Regions from separate parts of the Homo sapiens genome. Here all the other regions are reported to be linked to region 1. The links are microRNA targets in miRTarBase. Many come from high-throughput screens and were not tested one by one. Region 1 holds a microRNA gene; each other region holds the end of a gene's coding sequence.

What was found. The annotated mature microRNA hsa-miR-3173-5p reads UGCCCUGCCUGUUUUCUCCUUU and lies in region 1 at 1,958-1,979, shown strand. An mRNA with a match to its seed (bases 2 to 7 or 8) in the 3' UTR can be bound and repressed. Matches are read on the target gene's strand: a 7mer-m8 pairs with bases 2 to 8, a 7mer-A1 pairs with bases 2 to 7 and ends in A, and an 8mer does both.
Region 2: the mRNA of COX6C is a reported target of hsa-miR-3173-5p. The part of its 3' UTR that is shown has no 7-base or 8-base seed match.
Region 3: miRTarBase lists MTFR1L as a target of hsa-miR-3173-5p. Seed matches in the 3' UTR shown: 7mer-m8 at 963-969 and 7mer-A1 at 1,008-1,014.

The regions. Positions count from the first base shown.
Region 1 is chr14:95,136,684-95,139,939 of GRCh38, reverse strand. MIR3173 (microRNA 3173) reads left to right here and starts at 1,954; the gene lies at 1,954-2,021. All of the region lies in intron 1 of DICER1 (dicer 1, ribonuclease III), which reads left to right.
Region 2 is chr8:99,884,706-99,887,961 of GRCh38, reverse strand. COX6C (cytochrome c oxidase subunit 6C) reads left to right here. Exons shown (of 4, transcript NM_004374.4): 3 at 344-472. The coding sequence ends at 457. Among named protein-coding and RNA genes, the nearest start is that of COX6C, 7.4 kb to the left of the region's middle.
Region 3 is chr1:25,831,471-25,834,726 of GRCh38, forward strand. It overlaps MTFR1L (mitochondrial fission regulator 1 like), which reads left to right. Exons shown (of 7, transcript NM_001099625.2): 7 at 451-1,468. The coding sequence ends at 556. It overlaps AUNIP (aurora kinase A and ninein interacting protein), which reads right to left. Exons shown (of 3, transcript NM_024037.3): 3 at 2,536-3,256. Among named protein-coding and RNA genes, the nearest start is that of MTFR1L, 13 kb to the left of the region's middle.

The DNA of each region.
Region 1 (3,256 bases):
TTTTAAGTCTTGGATTTGTTTTCCCTAAATAGAAAGTGCATTACTGGGGCCAGTTATTGTCCACTAAATGAATGAAAATTAATTTAAACATTGTAACCTTATGGAAAATATAATTGGAAGGGTTAAATTGTTGTTCTTTATGTCCTTGTACATCCTCTCTCCTGCACTCATCTCTCAGGGCTGGTAGGAGTGGGATAGATGTGTGTTTCCAAACCGAATAGAAATATATCTTGATCCATCCATGATTCTGTTCTGTATATTATTGTGTGGACATTCATGAGTCTCTAATTCAGTTTGTCAAATATTTACTTAAATGTATATACAGAACATTGTAGCAGGAAATTTAAGAGGTGCAAAGAATGAGACTCATGTCTTGTTCTTATGGAGCTGTGCTCCAGTAAAAGAATAACATGTATGTTGTGTATGTGTGTCTATGAATAGCTCTAAAAATCTGTGATAGAAATTATGAAAGGCAAATAGAAGCTGTTTGAGGTTTTAATGTCACTCAGGTGGACATTGTTTTCATTCTAACAACCTGCAGTTTTTGTTTACCATGTCCTGGATGTGGTTCTGTACAGTGGGTAATACAGGTAAGGGTAAGATATGCAGCTCCTATATCCAAGGAAATTCTAGTCTAATTGGTCATATTTTAGTGAGAACAGAGTTTTAAGAGAAATTTTCTAAATAAGAATTCATATAAAATTACAGAAGTACATTTTATGGATTAAGACTATACCCCAAGCCTCTGTAGTATAACTGCTAGGATCACTTGGATTGAGCACATAGGATTGAAATACAGGATTAAACACTTTCAGTTGGTCAGTCAGGGAGGATGCATAATATGCTATAGGCTTTCAGCCAACAGGGATTACTCTTCTGTTGTGGAAATTGCTGGTGAATGGTGATGAGGCAGCAATAGGATAGCATTCTTTTTTTTTTTTTTTTATTTTTTTATTTATTTTTATTTTTTTTATTATACTCTAAGTTTTAGGGTACATGTGCACATTGTGCAGGTTAGTTACATATGTATACATGTGCCATGCTGGTGCGCTGCACCCACTAATGTGTCATCTAGCATTAGGTATATCTCCCAATGCTATCCCTCCCCCCTCCCCCGACCCCACCACAGTCCCCAGAGTGTGATATTCCCCTTCCTGTGTCCATGTGATCTCATTGTTCAATTCCCACCTATGAGTGAGAATATGCGGTGTTTGGTTTTTTGTTCTTGCGATAGTTTACTGAGAAGCTGGGTGAATAATCTGAACGTAAGGTTACAGGTCGGCAGAAGTCAGGCAGTCATGAGTGGGGGCAGTACTTTTCAGAGTACATTTGGGACTAGATATCACAGAGTGTAGTGCTTTGCTTAATTTCCTTTTTAAATATCAACTTTTTAATGAATTCCATTCCAGTAGTTTGTATTATTTTCTTACACATGGTTTTTTGTGAGAGCTGATAGAAACCTTAATCTTTTCAGGTATTTTTGGTTAGAGATGTTATTTCTGTATTTCTTTATTGTTTGATATTTATTTTTACTATATAATGTATCTATTTTCTCTTTATTTAGAGCCTAAATGTTGATAAATGTAACCTTTCATTTCTCTGTTTTTTTTTTCCACTTTTTTTCTCAGATTGATTCTTAGAAACCAGCTACCTATCATTTTTTTCTAAACCCTGTGAAAGTTTTAGGGTGGGGTAGGGCATTTATGAGAAATGTTGTGTTTGCTAAGAAAAAAAAAAAATCTCTGTCCTTTGAAATGCCAGGAACAGAACCTGGACACTGAGTGAATTTGCAACTCCTCCTTTTCCAAGCTCTTTACCTGCTGGTTTGTAGGAATAGGATCCACATACTTGAGTGAGGTTGGTGTCTTGAGGTGAAACCGGGCCTGAGAAACATTGGAGGTCTAGGGCTTATTTTCCAGATAGAATTGAGTCTTTGTTGGTCTTGGGCCAGCTTCCCTGCCCTGCCTGTTTTCTCCTTTGTGATTTTATGAGAACAAAGGAGGAAATAGGCAGGCCAGGGAAACGATCTCTCTCCCTCTCTTGTGCCGAGGAAGAACTGTCCAGATTTTTCCTCAATTTGTTTCCGAAACAAGCGGCTTTGCAGTTTCAAAAAGAATTTACTGATAGCAGAAAGTGAAAAAAAGTATTCCTAAGGACAAATAAGGAGAACATTTTCAAAGTCTTAGAAGCTTCTTGGTAGAGCTCATCCCTGGTTTTTTGGAGTCTAAGACCCTTGACTTTTCCCTTACAAACAAAGCTTTTCACCTTGCTTGGGGTCTGGCTGCAGTACTTGTTCATTATCTCAATATTTGTGGCCTGATGGCTTTCTGCTTTGATCCCTGACTTTTTTCCTTTCCCCTTCCCCTTTCCCTTCCCCTTCTCCATTCCCTTCCCCTTTTTCTTTCCCTTTCCCCTTTCCCTTTTCCTTCCCCTTCCCCTTTCCCTTCCCCTTCCCTATCCCCATTCCTGTCCCCTTTTTCTTTCCCTTTCCTCTTCCCCTTTTCCTTCCTCTTATTCCCTTCCCCTTTTTCTTTCCCTTTCCCCTTTACCTTTTCCTTCCCCTTCCCCCTTCCCTTTTCCTTCCTCTTTCCCTTCCCCTTCCCCTTTCCCTTTCCTCTTCCCCTTTCCCTTTTCCTTTTTCTTTTGCCTTTCCCTTCCCCTTCCCCTTTCCATTTTCCTTTTTATTTCCCCTTTCTCTTCCTCTTCCCCTTTCCTTTCCCCTTCCCTTTTTCCTTTCCCCTTCCCCTTTTCCTTCTCCTTCCCCTTTTCCTTCCCCTTCCTCTTCCTTTCCCTTTTCTTTCCTTTTCCCCTTTCCCTTGCTTTCCCTTTTTCCTCCTTTCCTTCTTTCCCTTCTTTCCTTTTTTTCCTTTCCTTTCTGTTCATATCTGTTCTTTGCTTTCCTCTTTTCTACTTATACCTTTTACAGGAAGTGATAATAGTGATTTAGAGAGTGTCATTTGGTTTGCTTTTATCCCAGAATATTCAACTCAAGCTAGCTTGGATAGTTAAGGAATTTGTTGGCTCAGTTAATTGGAAAGTCCATTGTTAGGCTGGGCTTTGAGTTTGGTTGATCCAGCAGTTTATTGATGTCATCAATGACCCAGGTTCTTTATTTTTGCCATCTGCGGTGCTGGTTTCATCCTAAGGCTGGATCTTTTCATGGGTCTGTGTAGTGTAATTGCAGCAGCAAATGGGACTAATAATTTCATGAGTCATCTTTAGAGGGAAAGAAAGACAACTGCTTCTCTTCAACCAT
Region 2 (3,256 bases), not on the chromosome of region 1:
GACCCCATCTTTAAAAAAAATAATAAGTCACTTAAACTTTCCATTTTTGTCTTGAATCTTCATTTTTTCTTTCTCTGTTGAACCCCACCCACCCTTTGTGTACGGAAACCTCGAACAAAACAAAATAGACACCTTATTCCCCATTCTTTTCTTTGCAAATTTAGCAGTTTCTTAGACTTTGTCTTCCTTTTTATCTGTCACCACCTCCACCCCTTAGGAAATGTAGGGTTTAAATTAAAGGGTGAACAAAAACATGTGTTCTACCTTGTCTTTATATATTATAATCTGGAATCTAATTTCCAGTAATCTGAAAAATAAACTCTAATGGATGGTTGCTTTTTAGTTTCGTGTGGCTGATCAAAGAAAGAAGGCATACGCAGATTTCTACAGAAACTACGATGTCATGAAAGATTTTGAGGAGATGAGGAAGGCTGGTATCTTTCAGAGTGTAAAGTAATCTTGGAATATAAAGGTAATATGGTTATTTGAAGTTACTTAAAAAAAAATTTCTAATTGTGGTAAAATGCAAATACAGGTGACTGTCCCTCACAATGTTTAGACTTAAGATTTTTTGACTTTACGATGGTGTGGAAGTGATACACATTTGGTAGAAACCATACTTTGAATTTTGATCTTTGTCCACATGAGCAATAAGTGGCACAATACTTTTGTGATGTGGGGGAGCACCAATGACCACATCCCCCAGTCAGAAACATAATCACAAGGGTAAACAGCTGATGCTGTACTCTGTAGTGTTGTGTGAGATACTCAGTGTTTTATTATAAGCTAGGCTTTGTGTTAGATGATTTTCTTCAGCTGTAGGCTAACATAAGTGTTCTGAGCACATTTAAGGTAGGGAAGGCTAAGCTATGATGTAAGTTAGGTGTATTAAATGCATTTTCAACTTAAGATATTTTAAACTTATGATGGTTTTATCAGAATGTAACCTGATGGTAAGTTAAGGAGCATCTATAATATAAAATTTGCCATCTTAACCATTTTTAATTGTACAGTTTAGTAGTGTTAAGTTCATTCACATTGTTGTGCAACCAGTCTCCAGAACTCGTCATCTTACAGAATTGAAACCCTATATCCATTAAGCAACCCATTCACACCTCCACTCAGACCCTGGCAGCCACTGTGTTACTTTCTAAGAATTTGGCTACCCCAGGCATCTCATAAGTAGAATCACACAGTATTTGTTTTCTTGTGACTGGCTTATTTCACTTAGCGTAGTGTACTCAAGGTTCATCCATGTTACAGCATGTGTCAGAATTTCCTTTCTTTTTAAAGCTGAATGATCTATTTTAGTTGTGTCACATTGTTATCCATTCATCCATCAGTAGATGCTTGGGTTGCTTCCACTTTTTGATTGTTGTGAGTGATGCTGTGAACCTAGGCATGCAAATATTCCTTCAAGGCCTTGCTATCAATTCTTTTGGGGTATATTCAAAAGTGGAATTCCTGGATCATATGATTTTTAATTTCTTAAGAAACTGCCATACCCTTTTCCATAGTGGCTGCACCATTTTACACTCTTTCCATCCTCCCCAACACTTGTTAATTTTTTTTTTAACAGGGTCTCCCTCTGTCACCCAGGCCGTAGTGCTGTAGTGCGATCATGGCTCACTGCAGCCTCAACCTCCCAGGCTCAAGGGATCTTCCTGCCTCAGCCTCCCAAGAAGCTGGCACTATAGGCATGTGCCACCACACCTGGCTAACTTCTTTATTTTTAGTAGAGACAGGGTTTCACCATATTACCTGGGCTGTGCTTGAATTCCTGGGCTCAGGCGATCCGTCCACCTTGGCCTCCCAAAGTGTTGGGATTACAGGCGTGAGCCACTGTGCCTGGCATAATTTTGGTATTTTTTGATAGTAGCCATCCTAATAGGTATGAGGTGGTATCATTGTGGTTTTGATTTGCATTTCCCTGATTATTTGTGTTCTTGAGCATCTTTTCATGTACTTATTGGCCATTTGTATGTTATCTTTGGAGAAATGTTTATTCAGTTCTGCTCATTTTCAAATTTGGTTTTTTGTTTATTGGTTGAGTTGTTCTGTATATATTCTGGATATTAACCCCTTATCAGATATGATTTGTAAATATTTTCTCCCATTTCATAGGTTGCCTTTTCACTCTGTTGTGTCCCTTGATGCACAGAAATTTTGATGTCGAATTTATTTTTATTTTTGTTCTGTGTGCTTTTAGTGTCATATTCAATAAATCATTGCCAAATCCAATGTCATGAAGTCTTTTTTATGTGTTCTTCTAAGACTTTTATAGTTTTAGCTCTTATGTTTAGATCTTTGATTCACTTGAATTTTTGTGTAGGGTGTAAAGATCCAACTGTATTCTTTTACATGTGGTATCCAGTTTTCCCGAAATCATTTAAGATTGTCCTCTTCCATGGAGTGGTCTTGGTACCTTGGTGAAATCATTTGACTCTAAATGCGAGAGTTTATTTCTGGGCTATTTCTTTAGTCTGTATGTCTGTCTTCGGGGCAGTACTACACTGTTTTGATTACAGTAGTCCGTTTTATCTAAGATATGTTTCAAGACCCCTCTAGTGGATTCTTGAAACCACAGATAGTACCAAACCCTGTATATATTATGTTGTTTTTCGTGTACGTACATACCTATGATGACGTTTAACTCATAAATTAGACATAGTAAGAGATGAGCAACAATAACAAAATAGAACAATTGTAGTGTATAGTAATAAAAGGTGAATGTGATCTCTCAATATCTTGCTGTACTGTACTCACCTGTTTTTGAACCACAGTTGACTGTGGGTAGAACTAAAGCGGTGGAAGGTTAAACCACAAATAAGGGATGACTGCTACACTGTAGCTTTGTAGTATGCTTTAAAATCAGTAAGTGTGAGTCCTCTAGCTTTGTTCTTTCTTTCACCCCACCCGGAGGGTGCTCTAGCTATTTGTGGTTCCTTAAGAGTCTGTGAATTTTAGGATGGATTTTTCTATTTCTGTAAAAATGCCATTGGGATTTTGATAGGGATTGCATTAAATCTGTAGATTACTTTGGTAGTATGGACATCGTAACAATATTAAGTATTCCAATCCATGAACACAGGATGTCTTTCCTCTTATTTGTATCTTTAATTTCTTTTAGCAGTAGTTTGCATCTTTAATTTCTTTTAGTGTTGCTACTCTCTTACTATGCCTAATTTATGAGTTAAGCTTTATTATAGGTATGTGTATATATAGGAAAAAACGTAGCTGTATAGGGTTTGGTACC
Region 3 (3,256 bases), not on the chromosome of region 1:
CTTTTCTCCAGAACTATCAAGGGTCAGAATAGCCAAGAGTCATCAGTCACTTCCCCTGCTGACCCTCTGGGGAAATGCTACTAAGAAAACAGGGCCAGAAGGCAGAAGCTTAGCCACCAGAGGCCAACTCTAACAGACTGATGGTCCTTTACTTTGCCCATACTTTATAGCTATTTCAGGAAATAGTAAAGCATTCTAGTTAATAGATGAGATCTGGAACCAGCTAGTTTGGTTCTGAACTCTGGATTCACCGCTTACTTGCTGAGTGACTAGTGACCTTGGGCAACTTGTATAACCTTTCTGTGCTTCAATTTCCTTATCTGTGAAAGGGAATTGTAATGGCACCTACCTCGTAAGATTGTTGTGAGGATTCAACGAGATAATGTATTCAAAAGATATACAGCACTACACAGGAAAGAGTAAGTACTCAAGCTATTATTGTGTCTCTAGGAACCGGAGTTTATTGAAGGAGGAAGACCCTGCTGTGCTTATCTCTGAGGTCCTAAGGAGGAAGTTTGCTCTAAAGGAAGAAGATATCAGTAGAAAAGGAAATTGACAACCCTCAGCTCTGCAAACTCAGTCTCATGCTCCTGGAATACCTTCAATAGCTGCCTTCCTCACCGCAGATGTTTCTGCCTCTTAAGGATAGATCTTCTGCAACAGTCTTGCTGACAAGCTAGAGCTTGGACTGAAAGAGAAGAGCTGGATTATATATTTCCCAGACTTCAAACCCTAGCAGAAGCTAAGGCTTGTGATTTGACCTGAGACATTTGTTTCAGGTAATCGTGTAGAATGAAGTATCTTAGTTTAAAGGGTAAGAGAGAAGTTGTTTCTGGTTTTTCCTTGCCCCTGTGTGAAAATAGGTCCTAAATGACTGACTTCACTGCATTAGACCCTATAGCTGGTCTCACAAGACACTTTGTGCCCAGCTGTCACTCACTCAGCAGCTTCCTTGCAGCAGAGCAGGGCTGAGGGGAAGGGGCTATGAATGTTTGTATACATGTTCACAGGGCACGGAAAATCTTATGCTGCTCCGTCATAAACCTACACCAATGCCCAGCAATCACCCTCCTCACTTCCTTGTCTAGATGTAGAGGTCAGGCTGCTGAACCAGCCAACACATGGGCTACTGCTGGGAAGCCTGGGCTGTTTTTTTTCTTAAACACATTTTATATTACTGAACAACCAAATCTACCCTCCACGGCCCTGAGGCCTTATCAGTTCCACTGATTAAAAACTTTCTCTTCCACGGACTTTAAGCCCGGTAGGAAAGAGAGAGGAGGAGGGGGAAAGAGCAAACCATCTTTCTTCCAGGCCCTTGACTGCTCCTTTGGGCTGGGCCAAGGTTTGTATGTACCACACCATGCATGACTCAGATGCCCTCAGGTCCCTTTCTCTATGGTATGTATACTGCTTGTGTTTGGGTTGAAGCACTACCTGACATTAAAGGAAGGACTTGGAGAGAGAATGCATTTGCTGTGTCCATCTCTTGAGTTGCGATTACCCAGTATCCTTCAGGGGCATAGGATTATTGTTAATTTTAAGGTGTATGAACTTAAACAGGCTACTGGCTTCTCCTCTTTCCTTATAAGGTCCTGCCCTTCTAGGGGGTTTCTTCCCCCTTTCTGTAGAGATTTTGCCCTATACTCTTTTTCTTTTTTTTAGAAACAGTATCTAGCTCTGTCATGCCGGAGTGCAGTGGTGGGATCATTAGCTAACTGCAGCCTCCAAACTCCTGGGCTCAAGTGAGCCTCCCACCTTAGCCTCCTGAGTAGCTGGGACTACAGGTATGCACCACCACACCCAGGAAATTTTTAAATTTTTTTGTAGCGATGGGGTCTTGCTATGTTGCCCAGGCTGGTCTTAAACTCCTGGTCTCAAGCAAACCTCCCACCTCAGCCTCCCAGAGCGTTGAGATTACAGACATGAGCCACCGCACTAAGCCCCATACATTCTTAAAAGCAGGTCTTCCAGGAAAATGACTGGAGAGATGACATACACGATAAAAGTAGAATTTAACATTTAAATTAGGCCAGGCACAGTGGCTCACACCTCTAATCACAGCACTTTGGGAGTTCAAGATCAGCCTGGGCAACAAAGCAAGACCTCATCTCTACAAAATATTTTAAAAATAATTAGCTGGGCATGGTGGCATGTGCCTATAGTTCAGCTACTCGGGAGGCTGAGGTGGGAGAATCACTTGCGCCCAGGAGGTCCAGGCTGCAGTGAACCGTGTTCATGCCACCACACTCCAGCCTGGGCAAGAGAGCGAGACCGTGTCTCAAAAAAATAAAATTTAAGTTAAAAAAAAAAAAAGAAGCAGTTCTCTTATAACCTTGCAAGTTTGTCCCTTAGAGGTTGTTTAAGCCTCTTAGATACCACATCAACAACAAGGAATAATGCCTTGGGTAGAAGACAGGTCAAACTAGACTCTGGTTCAGATCAGGCTCAGGGCAATGACAGCATATACTATTACAGTGTTGCCTTTTCAAAAATAAAATTGGTAATGGTTTAATTACCAATTATCACAAGAGCCACTTTGTAAACATTTATTTGGATTCATAGTTTTACAAAGGGGATTCCCTCCTATCTTGTGGGAAAAGGGTAACAGAGTCACATCCAGATTGTTGTACAGCTCAGGCTTTTTAAGGGAGATATTTAAACATAGAGTATATAACTTTAAAGTGCTGTACAGTTACCACAAAAATAAAATAGGAAACTAGCACCATTCTACCTCTCTTCTCTCCACACCTGGGTTGTGGGGAGATTTGCTAATCACTGAAAAAAAAGGGTCAAGAGTAATCATCCCAAGCTTAGGCTGATGTGGGTTAAGATCAGCCAGAGATTAAAAGCTCACACATCTGGCTGGGCGCGGTGGCTTATGCCTGTAATCTCAGCACTTTGGGAGGCTGAGGTGGGCGGATCAGGAGGTCAGGAGATGGAGACCATCCTGGCTAATATGGTGAAACCTCGTCTCTACTAAAAATCCAAAAAAAATTAGCTGGGCGTGGTGGCGCATGCCTGTAGTCCCTGCTATTCGGGAGGCTGAGGCAGGAGAATCGCTTGAATCCGGGAGACAGAGGGTGCAGTGAGCTGAGGTCGCACCACTGCACTCCAGCCTGGCAACAGAGCGAGACTCCATCTCAAAAAAAAAAAAAAAAAAACACATCCATAAGCAAGGTCCCAGTCAGACATCTGGAAGGGCAAAGAGATGGCTCTGTGCAGGCTGAGTAAAAGGCACTTTCATAGAGATAAA